Homo sapiens: one gene and its partners. The protein of the gene in region 1 purifies or fractionates together with the protein of each later gene. This does not show direct contact. Each region holds a gene or a part of one and is shown in the gene's direction. Other genes may lie near its edges.

Region 1 (3,655 bases):
GACACTAGGGTTCCTGACTTAATAGGACCCTGCAGCTATTTTAGTATTAGCCGGAACTGCCACTTTTCCCCTGCTAGTCCTCTGTTTGACTATGTCACATGCTGCTCTACCTTCCTTGTTACTAGAGATTACTTGAGACTCATTCTTCAAGGTCGGGGCCTTGGGAAATTATCCTTGTGAATGAGATAACCTGTTGGTAGGTGCTTTAACAGTGAAGTTCTGTAGCGCTGTGGTACCCTGCTGCTGTTCTCTGTGTGTGACTCTGCTTCTGCATTCGGGATGTGAAATCCCTGGCATAGGCCCAACCCTACCCATAGAGTGTAGCTATTAATGTCACCTCTCAAGGAACACATGTTTATTTCAACAGGTGTCTTTTGAAGAACATTTTCTTGAAATATTTAGCCCTCTCGTCCTGGCTCATTCCTGCATATTCTTTAGTTGTTAGCTTAGCTGCATTTTTACTGGGACATCTTCCTTGCTTTTCCACCTCTCAGCACTGTTCCTCCTGTGTGCTGTCAGAGGACTGTGTGTGTACTTCCGTTTCCTGGCTGGTAGTTGCCTTTTTACTTGTTTGTATCCCCACTGAAGACAGTATCTTGAGAGCTGGCACTGTCTTTCACCTCTATAGCCATCCTATGTAGCACACAGTTTTACACTGGCTAGGAACTCAGTAAATATTTTATGAATACATGTTTTAGTGTTAATGACAATTTCAAGTGCTATATTAGACCAGTTAGGTGTATTTTTTAAAAATTCCTTGCAAAGGCTTCACAAAGGCTTAGAGGCCATTTAAATATCTATATATAAAGGTACAATATGTAATATCTGTTTATCAATATATAAAAACAGATGTGTGTTTGTGTGTTTCAACGGGGAAATGAGGAATTGCTGGTAGAGCAAATGTAGGATGAGGAAATTGGAAGGAGCGAGGGCCAGGGTTAGAAATTTCCTTACTAGAGGTGTCCTGCGTATTTGACTCGAGCTTTCTAGCGGCAAATCAAGGTCAGTGAGGATTGTTGTTGTTTTTGGTAGGCAGGTTTTTTAGCACTCCTCAGTTTATATATATCTGAGAGGCTATCTCTTGTTACATAAAATTTTGGTGTTAAAGCTCACTGTTTTTCAGACTTCTGTCATCCTAGGACAGTCTTATTGTTAGTTGGGGAAGGTGTCACTGATGACGGTTTTCTAAAGCTACCTGTAGCGATGGTAGTATTATAAGGTGATAATAAGTGACAATTACTGTTAGTATTTTGAGACCACTGAAGCTTATGTATTTATTTGTCTCTGATTTTAGTTTACTACAGTCAGCATGTGCCAGGCACTGTGTTAGACACCTGAGAGTCTTCTTTAGCTTCAAGGTGCTTACTGAGTAGTAGGGGCAAACACATAAAAAAATATAATTTTATACAACATGATTTATAAATAAAGAAGATATATGCCTTGTACCTTAGGAGCCTCAGGGTTTGAGGAAGTTTTCCAAGAGGGTTATTCTTAGCCAGTAGAAAAAAAGTGAGGAAGATGTTCTGTCACGTCAGAGATGTGGTAGCCTGGAATGGCATGGTACCCATGGAGTGAGCAAAGATGGGAGGTGTGAAAGGCGTGGTATGTATCGGCATTCCAGCAGCACACTTACCAAGGGTTGAAAGCGTGTAGGGGAGCAGCGAGAGACATACTTGAAGACACTGCCAAGGTCGAAGAATGCTTGTTCTAGATACCATCTTAGGGATAATGAAAAAGTTCAGAAAGGGCTTTAAATGGCAGTAGCGTAGATGGATTCATAGGGGCAAGATTAGAAGCTGGGAGACCATGGATATTAGGCAAGAAATTATGAGTATTTGTTGGCAAGATACAGTGCTATTAATTGGAAAGAGTTATTTAGGAGATTAGCAAATAATTACACATTGGGTGACATGGTTGGGAGACAGCTCAGTGCAGAGATAAGAGAAAGAAGTATTGGTGAATTGCATGGTTTTGCCCCAGGCAACTGGGTGGACGGTGGAACTGTAAATTGAGAATGATTACAATAATGCTAACATTTAAGGGGTATTTAGTATGTTCCAAGCACTGTGCTGTATGCTTTACACAAAGTAACTTATTCCTCATAATAACCTGTGAAGTCGGTAAACTATTACCCCCATTTTATAGATGGGGAAGCTGAGACCTGGAGACAAAACGGAAGTCCCACTTAGCTAAGATTCTAAACCAGACATTCTGACTCCAGAACCCAGCGCATAGACTCTATATTACGGCAATATTATAGCCCATACCATTGTCAATAATAGTATGAAATTTGACATCTCCTAATCAACTTTATATCTCACACATATGGAGTGATGACAAATAATGCCTTAGGTCACCACATTAGTTGGAGAAATGTAGCATTAAATTACCGTCTCTTATAATAAATTACCATCAAATAATGAATTTGTGCCAAGTACAAGAGCACTGAATTTCCCAACAATAGATTTATAAATAACAATTGGAGGAAAGTTTAGAAGTAGGCAGTATTTTGAAAATTTGGCAGTTGCTTTTTATATTGCTTGTTTTACATTTTTAATACAAATGTAGGGGGAATTCTCAGCATCTTAGTACTTCTCTTCACATAGCTAACCTAGTGTCTTACAGTGGAAACGCATGTATTCCGTTGGAAACAGGAAGACAGGAAGTAGAGGCAGTGGATAAAGACAACCCTTTGAAGAATTTTTTTCTTTCTTTTTTTAATGGGAGCAGTGCACAAGTGCAGGGACTTGAGATGGGAGTACTGGCAGCGGAGCGGTGGGAGCGGTAGGGAAGCTCAGTACGTGAGGGGTGCAGCTGCAGAGAGTTGATCAGTGTGGTGTTGGAGCGTGTGCTTCCGTATTTTCAAGGAAATAAAAGAAATGAGGTTATGAGGCCTTCCCTTCCACTAGTCCTTTGGGACCGTTCTTGTCAAGAACCCTGGTGATGCCCATACTGCTAGACTCCCGGTCAGTTCACCATTCTCCTCCTCCTCCATTTGACAGTTCGTGATTCCCTCCTCTTTTCTGAAATGCTTTCTTCACTTGCTGGTGACCATTCTCTTTTCCCTTCTGCCTCACCGCCACTTCTTCTCAGCCTCATTTGCCTCTTGCCTCTTTATCTTCTGGACTTCAAGGTCCAGTGCACAGTAGATGGACTGCCTTTTTCTCTGTTTGCAGCCGCTCCCCAGGGGACCTCATGAAGCCCGGTGATTCTGAATGCCGTGGATCTGCCGAGGATTCCCAGATGCGTATTTCTCCTCCGTACTTCCCCACAGGACAGCAGGCTTGAATAGCTGATTGCCTATGCAGGACAACAGGCTTGAATAGCTGACTGCCTATGCATTCTCTTTGCTTGCCAGTTTTTTGGACATCAAACTTGACAGATCCAAGATTATTACTTTGATCTTCCCCACACCCCTCCCACCCCCGAGTCTACTATGGTCCCATCATAGTATTCTGAAAATCAGTGAATGGCCACTCTACCAGTTATTTCTACCAGTTTTTAGGTTCTAAACCTCAGGCATTCTGGACTCTTCTGTTCATTATCATATTTTGAAGGCATTATCTTCAAAATCTATCTAGACTCTGACCCTTTCTCCCATCTCCACCATTACTGCCGTGGCTCTTCTGCTGGTCGGCTCTCTCCTGGTGGATCG
Region 2 (2,999 bases), on another chromosome or scaffold:
CACACCAGCTCTTCCCTTTTGCCTGTCATCCCGCCACTCTCCTGCCCCTTCCTAACCATGATTCATGGCAAAATGGTGCAAGATGGGCCAGGCGTGGTGGCTCACGCCTGTAATCCCAGCACTTTGGGAGGCCGAGGCAGGTGGATCACAAGGTCAGGAGATCGAGACCATCATGGCTAACACGGTGAAACCCCGTCTCTATTAAAAATTCAAAAAAAATTTAGCCGGGCGTGGTGGCGGGTGCCTGTAATCCCAGCTACTCGGGAGGCTGAGGCAGGAGAATGGCATGAACCCGGGAGACGGAGCTTGCAGTGAGCCGAGATCCCGCCACTGCACTCCAGCCTGGGCGACAGAGCGAGACTCTGTCTCAAAAAAAAAAAATGGTGCAGGATAGAGGCTACCTGTCCTGTCAGGTGGGGCTAGTGCAGCAGCCTAGCCTTCCTTGGTGGCATCTCTGGTCACCCCCATAGGTTCTTTATGGACTCAACAGGAATGTCACTTGAGCTGCAGATACTGATTTTGCTGATGGATGATGAAATTTTTTTCTTCCCTGTTGGGCTTTCAGTCCTTGCCTTAAGGAGACCATAAAAAAAGTGGTGGGAGGCCAGGTACAGTGGCTCATGGGTGTAATCCCAGCACTTTGGGAAGCCGAGGGGGCAGATCACTTGAGGTCAGGAGTTCGAGATCAGCCTGACTAACATGGAGAAACCCCGTCTCTACTAAAAATACAAAATTAGCCGGGTGTGGTGGCGCATGCCTGTAATCCCAGCTACTTGGGAGGCTGAGGCAGGAGAATCTCTTAAACCTGGGAAGCGGAGGTCGCGGTGAGCCGAGATGGTGCCACTGCACTCCAGCCTGGGCAACAAGAGCGAAACTCTGTCTCAAGACAAAACAACAACAACAAAAAAGTGATAAGCTGGGCACAGTGGTTCATGCCTGTAATCCCAGCGCATTGGAAGGCTGAGGCGGGTGAATCACTTGAGGTCAGGAGTTCAAGACTAGCCTGGCCAACATGGTGAAACCCCATCTCTACTAAAAATACAAAAATTAGCCAGCCATGGTGGCAGGAGCCTGTAATCCCAGTTACTCAGGAGGCCGAGGCAGGAGAATCGCTTGAACCCGGGAGGTGGAGGTTGCAGTGAGCTGAGATCACGCCACTGCACACAAGCCTGGGCAATACAGCAAGACTCAGTCTGAGAAAAAAAAAAAGAGTGATAAACCCACTGGGTGCAGCGGCTCATACCTGTAATCCCAGCACTTTGGAAGGCTGAGGTGGGTAGATCACTTGAGGTCAGGAGTTTGAGACCAGCCGGGCCAACATGGTGAAACCCAGTCTCTACAAAAAATACAAAAATTAGCTGGGCAAAAACAAAATTATCTGGGTGTGGTGGCACATGCCTATAGTCCCAGCTACTTGGGGGCTAAGGCAGGAGAATTGCTTGAACCCAGGAGGCGGAGGTTGCAGTGAGCCAAGATCACGCCACTGTACTCCAGCCTGGGCAACAGACTCTGTCTCAATCAATCAATAAAAGTTGAAGGGAAAAAAGAAAGAAAAAGGCCACTTAATTATCCCTTCTCTATACAGATTCTCAGCCAATTGAGAACTGCAGAAAGGAGTTAGGTAGAGGTAAAAATGGAGATTGTATTGTAGGTAGAGGCCCAGTCAACACATGGCTCAGACCCACAGCCAAAATGCACCTTCACCCCCTCCCCTTTTCTGTTTCCTGGTTTAAATCTGGGTTCTAGGCTGCAGAGCAAGCAGCATGGGGAACGGGGACACTAAAGGGCAAGTGTCCTGGGGGACTTATCTGGAGCTCTCAAGATGGTGAGATCAGTACTTTCACCTGCTTACATGCAACTAGGTGCTGCTGTGTGACCTCTGAATAGTCCTGGCCCTACTGCAGGGTCACTACCCCTGCTGACCCCACCATCAAAACCTCTGGATTGTTGATGCTGGGTCTCCAAATCTGCGCTTTGCATGCACCATGAAACTTGTTGCCAACTGTAATTTCTTGATGTGTGCAAGTGGGTTACATAATACCCAACCCATAGGATGCTAGAAGGACTGGGGAGACAGCATTTGATCAGGGCCTGGCACTCACTAGGCCCTCAGTGGGGCCATCCCAGTAAGCCTGGTTCAACACCCACGGGAACTAAGCCTGCTGTTGCAGATTCTCGGTCGTCTGCCTGTGTGCCGAGTAAGTCTTTCGGGGGCCAGATGGTCAGGGTAAGTCTGTGTGCTCAAGTTAGAGATGTGGATTTGGGAGTGATCAGGGCTCAATAGAAATGCATCATTGAAAGACAGGCCTTTCAATGTCAGTTGGTGCAAGATGGGCCTACAGAGGTCCATTGTGCAGTGGGCTTTCAGTCCCGTGTTTCAGACACCCTCCAGGTTTGGGATGGGAGGGGCAGAGTTGTTAGGGGAAGTGACAACACCCCTGAGCCTCCCTCCAAACCCATATTTAGGATTGTCTAAGGCCAAATGTTGAAATAAGCAATGGTTTCCCCAAGGCCCCCTGCTTCCTCTTTCTGCACCCTTCTATTCTTTCAGTGCCCTTCCTCCAAGCACCCAGGAAAACAAGGGTCCAAAAACAAAAAACTCCGAGACAGAGGGCAGCAAAATAGGAGCCAAATGCAGCCTACCACCTGCTTTTTACAGCCCATGAGCTATCAATGGTTTTTACATTTTTAATTGGTTGGGAAAAAATAATATTTTGTGACACATTAAATTCAAATTTCAGTGTCCATAAATAAAGTTTTATTGGAACACAGCCACAACCATTTGTTTACAGATTGTCCATGGCTGCTTTCAGCCGAGGTGAGGAGGTATAGGCTTGCAAAGTCTAAAATATTGACTCTCTGGCCCTTTAAGGAAAAGCTTGCCGATGCCCTGCTCTAGGATGTGTCTTGTGCCCAAGAGATCTGCTTTCCAAGGAAAGGGCAAACCAGTCAAATCCAGGCAGATGTGCAGAGGAGACACTGGACAGGGAAGCCTTCCT
Region 3 (3,655 bases), on another chromosome or scaffold:
GAACTTTCCCCTTCTCTTATGAACTCACAGCTTGCTTAAAGGGGTTCGATAAACTGTGAAAGGATCGCTCTACCTGAAAGATAAATGGAGTAGCCTGAGTTTATTGGACCTTTATTTGAGAGTGGTTGGACAAAATATTGTCTTTAAAACTAATTCTCAATCAAGTACAACTTAGAATCCATGTCTCAGGAAAGCATTGCTCCCACCAGTAATCTCTCGGCCTGAGAAACTGAAGAATCCTTGTATAGCTAGGTGTGGCAGCTCACACTTGTAGTCCCAGCTACATTGGAGGCTGAGATGGGAGGATCACCTGAGCCCAGAGGTCGGAAGTTGCAGTGAGCTATGGTGGCACCACTACACTCCAGCCTGGGTGACAGAGCACGACCCTATCTCAAAAAACAAACAAACAAACAAGAATCCTCTTTATCATTTGTGAGCTCTTTTTACCCGCATGGCTTCTCCTCCTTACTTTCCAACCTCTTGCTCTCTGTCTTCTTATAGATTGGAGCTAAACATGGTGTTATTTACTTGATCACAAAGTATGGCTATCTTCATCTGTACGACCTAGAGTCTGGCGTGTGCATCTGCATGAACCGTATTAGTGCTGACACAATATTTGTCACTGCTCCACACAAACCAACCTCTGGAATTATTGGTGTCAACAAAAAGGGACAGGTGTGTAACTCTGACATTTCATTTTCTACCTTTTCCATTCATTAGGGACTGGCGTTTAAACTTTCCCCCTTCTCTAGGAAAGCAGCTGGGTGTAGCTATTAATAGTTCCTGTTATTAAACTTAAACCCATGTCTCCTCCTTCATATTGACACTTCCTCTCTTCAGACAGCACCATTCCTAACACAGGATTGATTCCAGGAGGAGAGCAGCTCCTTCCTGCGTATAGAACAGCAGTTCTGATGCACATCATCTTTATACCATGCACACCCTAACTGGGGAGGGTTGAAAAAGCAGATACTATGGTATTTAAGTAACTTTTCTCAACCATAGTTGAAAAAGATAGTTAAAAGAAGAAACTCTTGGCTGGGCACAATAGTTTATGCCTGTAATCCCAACTGCATGGGAGGTTGAGGCAGGAGGATGGCTTGAGCCCAGGAGTTTGAGGCTGCAGTGAGCTGTGATCACACCATTGCACTCCAGCCTGGGTGAAACAGTGAGAGCCTGTCTCAGGGGAAAAAAAAAAAAAAGTCGGGAACAGTGGCTGATTCCTATAATCCCAGCACTTTGGAAGGCTGAGACAGGAGGATTGCTTGAGGCTAGGAGTTTGAATCCAGCCTGAGCGACATAGTAAGACCCTGTCTCTACAAAAATATTTTTTAAAAAAGAAAGAAACTCTGTACTTTAAAAATAAAAAGTTTAAGAAGAAAAATTGTCAGTTCCATCCACATAGGTCATTTTGCTGTAGCGCAGAACGCATCACACTTATCTGTGTGACTTTAATAACTACATAGACTCCTATGCTGTTCTGTTTTGTTACCATTTGGCTTTCGGCTGCTTTGCCTCCTTTCACTGTGAGGGCCACCATCACAGGTGTGCTCAACACTCGCCTGAGAATGTGGCTACCACTCCAGCATCGGAAGGGAACATGGCAGAGGGATGGTGGAGCACTCTTCTAGGCCGGGCTGCTCTCACTTGTTGTGTCCTTACAGGTACTGTCAGTTTGTGTTGAGGAAGATAACATTGTGAATTATGCAACCAACGTGCTTCAGAATCCAGACCTTGGTCTGCGTTTGGCCGTTCGTAGTAACCTGGCTGGGGCAGAGAAGTTGTTTGTGAGAAAATTCAATACCCTCTTTGCACAGGGCAGCTATGCTGAAGCCGCCAAAGTTGCAGCGTCTGCACCAAAGGTGATAAACCTTGAATACTGTTCAAGTGTTCTGAGTGTTAAGAACCAACCTTGAGAGGAAAATAAGTCATAAAAGCATTTCACTAGTGATATTGCAGTCTATTAGTGTTATGTTAGGAGTTTTTAGTTTAAAATTTTTGCACCAATGGCATAACAGTAAAGGAAGTAAACAAAAAACACACTCTTGCTGCATCGGCACTTCTTCACGCCTCCCACTTTGTGTGCATACGTACCTCTCACCCAACAGCTTAGATACAGTTTCACATTTCTGTAACTTAGCATTTTCCACTCTTGCTACCTGGTTGTCAAATATGCAACTGTACAATACATCAAGTGGTTGTTCCCTGTTTTATCTAGCGATAGTCCTACCCTGGACTTTCTCCACTCTTTTAGAATATAGCATTTCGGCATATGGCTTTTTCTTGGGTTTATTTCATTTGGATAAATTGTTCAGAGACTGGATCTGTTCCTGAGTAGATAAAGACTTTCAAGTTGCTTGTCCTTGAAAGAATTTTTCTTGTCTTTCAAGGGGTAGTTGTGAACAAACCATTTCTAGCCTTCATCTGTGAATTTGAGTATTTTGAATTAGAATATAATGATAGCAGAACTTCACTACTACAAGACTGATTGAGAGGCCGAATTCTTACTGCAGCATGCTGGGGGAGAAGTAAGACCCTAAGTGTGAAGCCACCTGGAGGACCTAGATTCCCCTATACTTATGGTTATTGTTGAAGATAGAAGCAGTTGCCTTGGTAGAGGACTTTTTGTCTATGACAGAGCAGTGTGGAATTTCCACTGGCAGATTTTTGTTTTTACATACAAGGAAGTTGAGTGAAGGGATCCCCTGTGATTACAACACAATGACCTATTTTTCCATTTATTATTAGGGAATCCTGCGTACCAGAGAGACGGTCCAGAAATTCCAGAGTATACCCGCTCAGTCTGGCCAGGCTTCTCCATTGCTGCAGTACTTCGGAATCCTGCTCGACCAGGGTCAGCTCAATAAACTTGAATCCTTAGAACTTTGCCATCTGGTTCTTCAGCAGGGGCGTAAGCAACTCCTAGAGAAGTGGCTGAAAGAAGATAAGGTAGAAACACTTGTGAGCTCGTAGCCCCCCCGCACAGCTTGAAAACTTGGTCCAGGCTCCCTACCTGCCTCCTAACTTTGCCTTGTCCCTTGGCATACCACAGCTGGAGTGCTCAGAGGAGCTCGGAGACTTGGTCAAAACCACTGACCCCATGCTCGCTCTGAGTGTGTACCTTCGGGCAAATGTGCCAAGCAAAGTGATCCAGTGTTTTGCAGAAACAGGCCAATTCCAGAAAATTGTGCTCTATGCCAAAAAGGTAACGTGTGTTGAACCACTGGCATCTCACAGATTACTCACGTGTGGTTGAGTGGTTGCTGATTTTAAAGTTTATAAAATACCCTTCTTTGTAAGTCCTCTGGTGTGAGAGTTGGCAATGTTGCTGTTAGGATCTTTATTCATAATGATCATATTTTATTCTCTTCAGCTTTTTATTATCCTTAGTTTTCCAGTCCTTCCATCTTCGTTTTATTTGGGAGCTTTATCTTGTTTTTTCTCTCCCTCTCTTCCTTCTGTATGTTAATTTGATATTTTGGCAGACTCCCAGATCTTATCCCTGTGTGCTTACTGGCAGGCTGTGTTTGCACACAGATCAGGAAACTTCTTTGTGGTCTGGGCTCTTTGTATAGTTAATTGTGCCTTCCATGTACATTAAATCAATTCATTTAATTGGATATTGTGTTTGGCAGAAGGTGGTACCTACACATGA

Evidence for each region.
Region 2: the proteins of STAM (region 1) and THADA fractionate together in Homo sapiens (co-fractionation; one large-scale study listed by BioGRID). This does not show direct contact.
Region 3: the proteins of STAM (region 1) and CLTCL1 purify together in Homo sapiens (affinity purification with mass spectrometry, with the first as the bait; one study listed by BioGRID). This does not show direct contact.

The regions. Positions count from the first base shown.
Region 1 is NC_000010.11:17,710,093-17,713,747, forward strand, and holds part of STAM (signal transducing adapter molecule 1), read left to right. Parts: intron 1-3,176; coding exon of another isoform or gene 3,177-3,288; exon of another isoform or gene 3,289-3,655. UniProt on the Homo sapiens protein: Involved in intracellular signal transduction mediated by cytokines and growth factors. Upon IL-2 and GM-CSL stimulation, it plays a role in signaling leading to DNA synthesis and MYC induction. May also play a role in T-cell development.
Region 2 is NC_000002.12:43,233,195-43,236,193, reverse strand, and holds part of THADA (tRNA (32-2'-O)-methyltransferase regulator THADA), read left to right. Parts: intron 1-2,999. UniProt on the Homo sapiens protein: Together with methyltransferase FTSJ1, methylates the 2'-O-ribose of nucleotides at position 32 of the anticodon loop of substrate tRNAs.
Region 3 is NC_000022.11:19,232,716-19,236,370, reverse strand, and holds part of CLTCL1 (clathrin heavy chain 2), read left to right. Parts: intron 1-501; coding exon 502-675; intron 676-1,664; coding exon 1,665-1,862; intron 1,863-2,748; coding exon 2,749-2,949; intron 2,950-3,052; coding exon 3,053-3,205; intron 3,206-3,655. UniProt on the Homo sapiens protein: Clathrin is the major protein of the polyhedral coat of coated pits and vesicles. Two different adapter protein complexes link the clathrin lattice either to the plasma membrane or to the trans-Golgi network.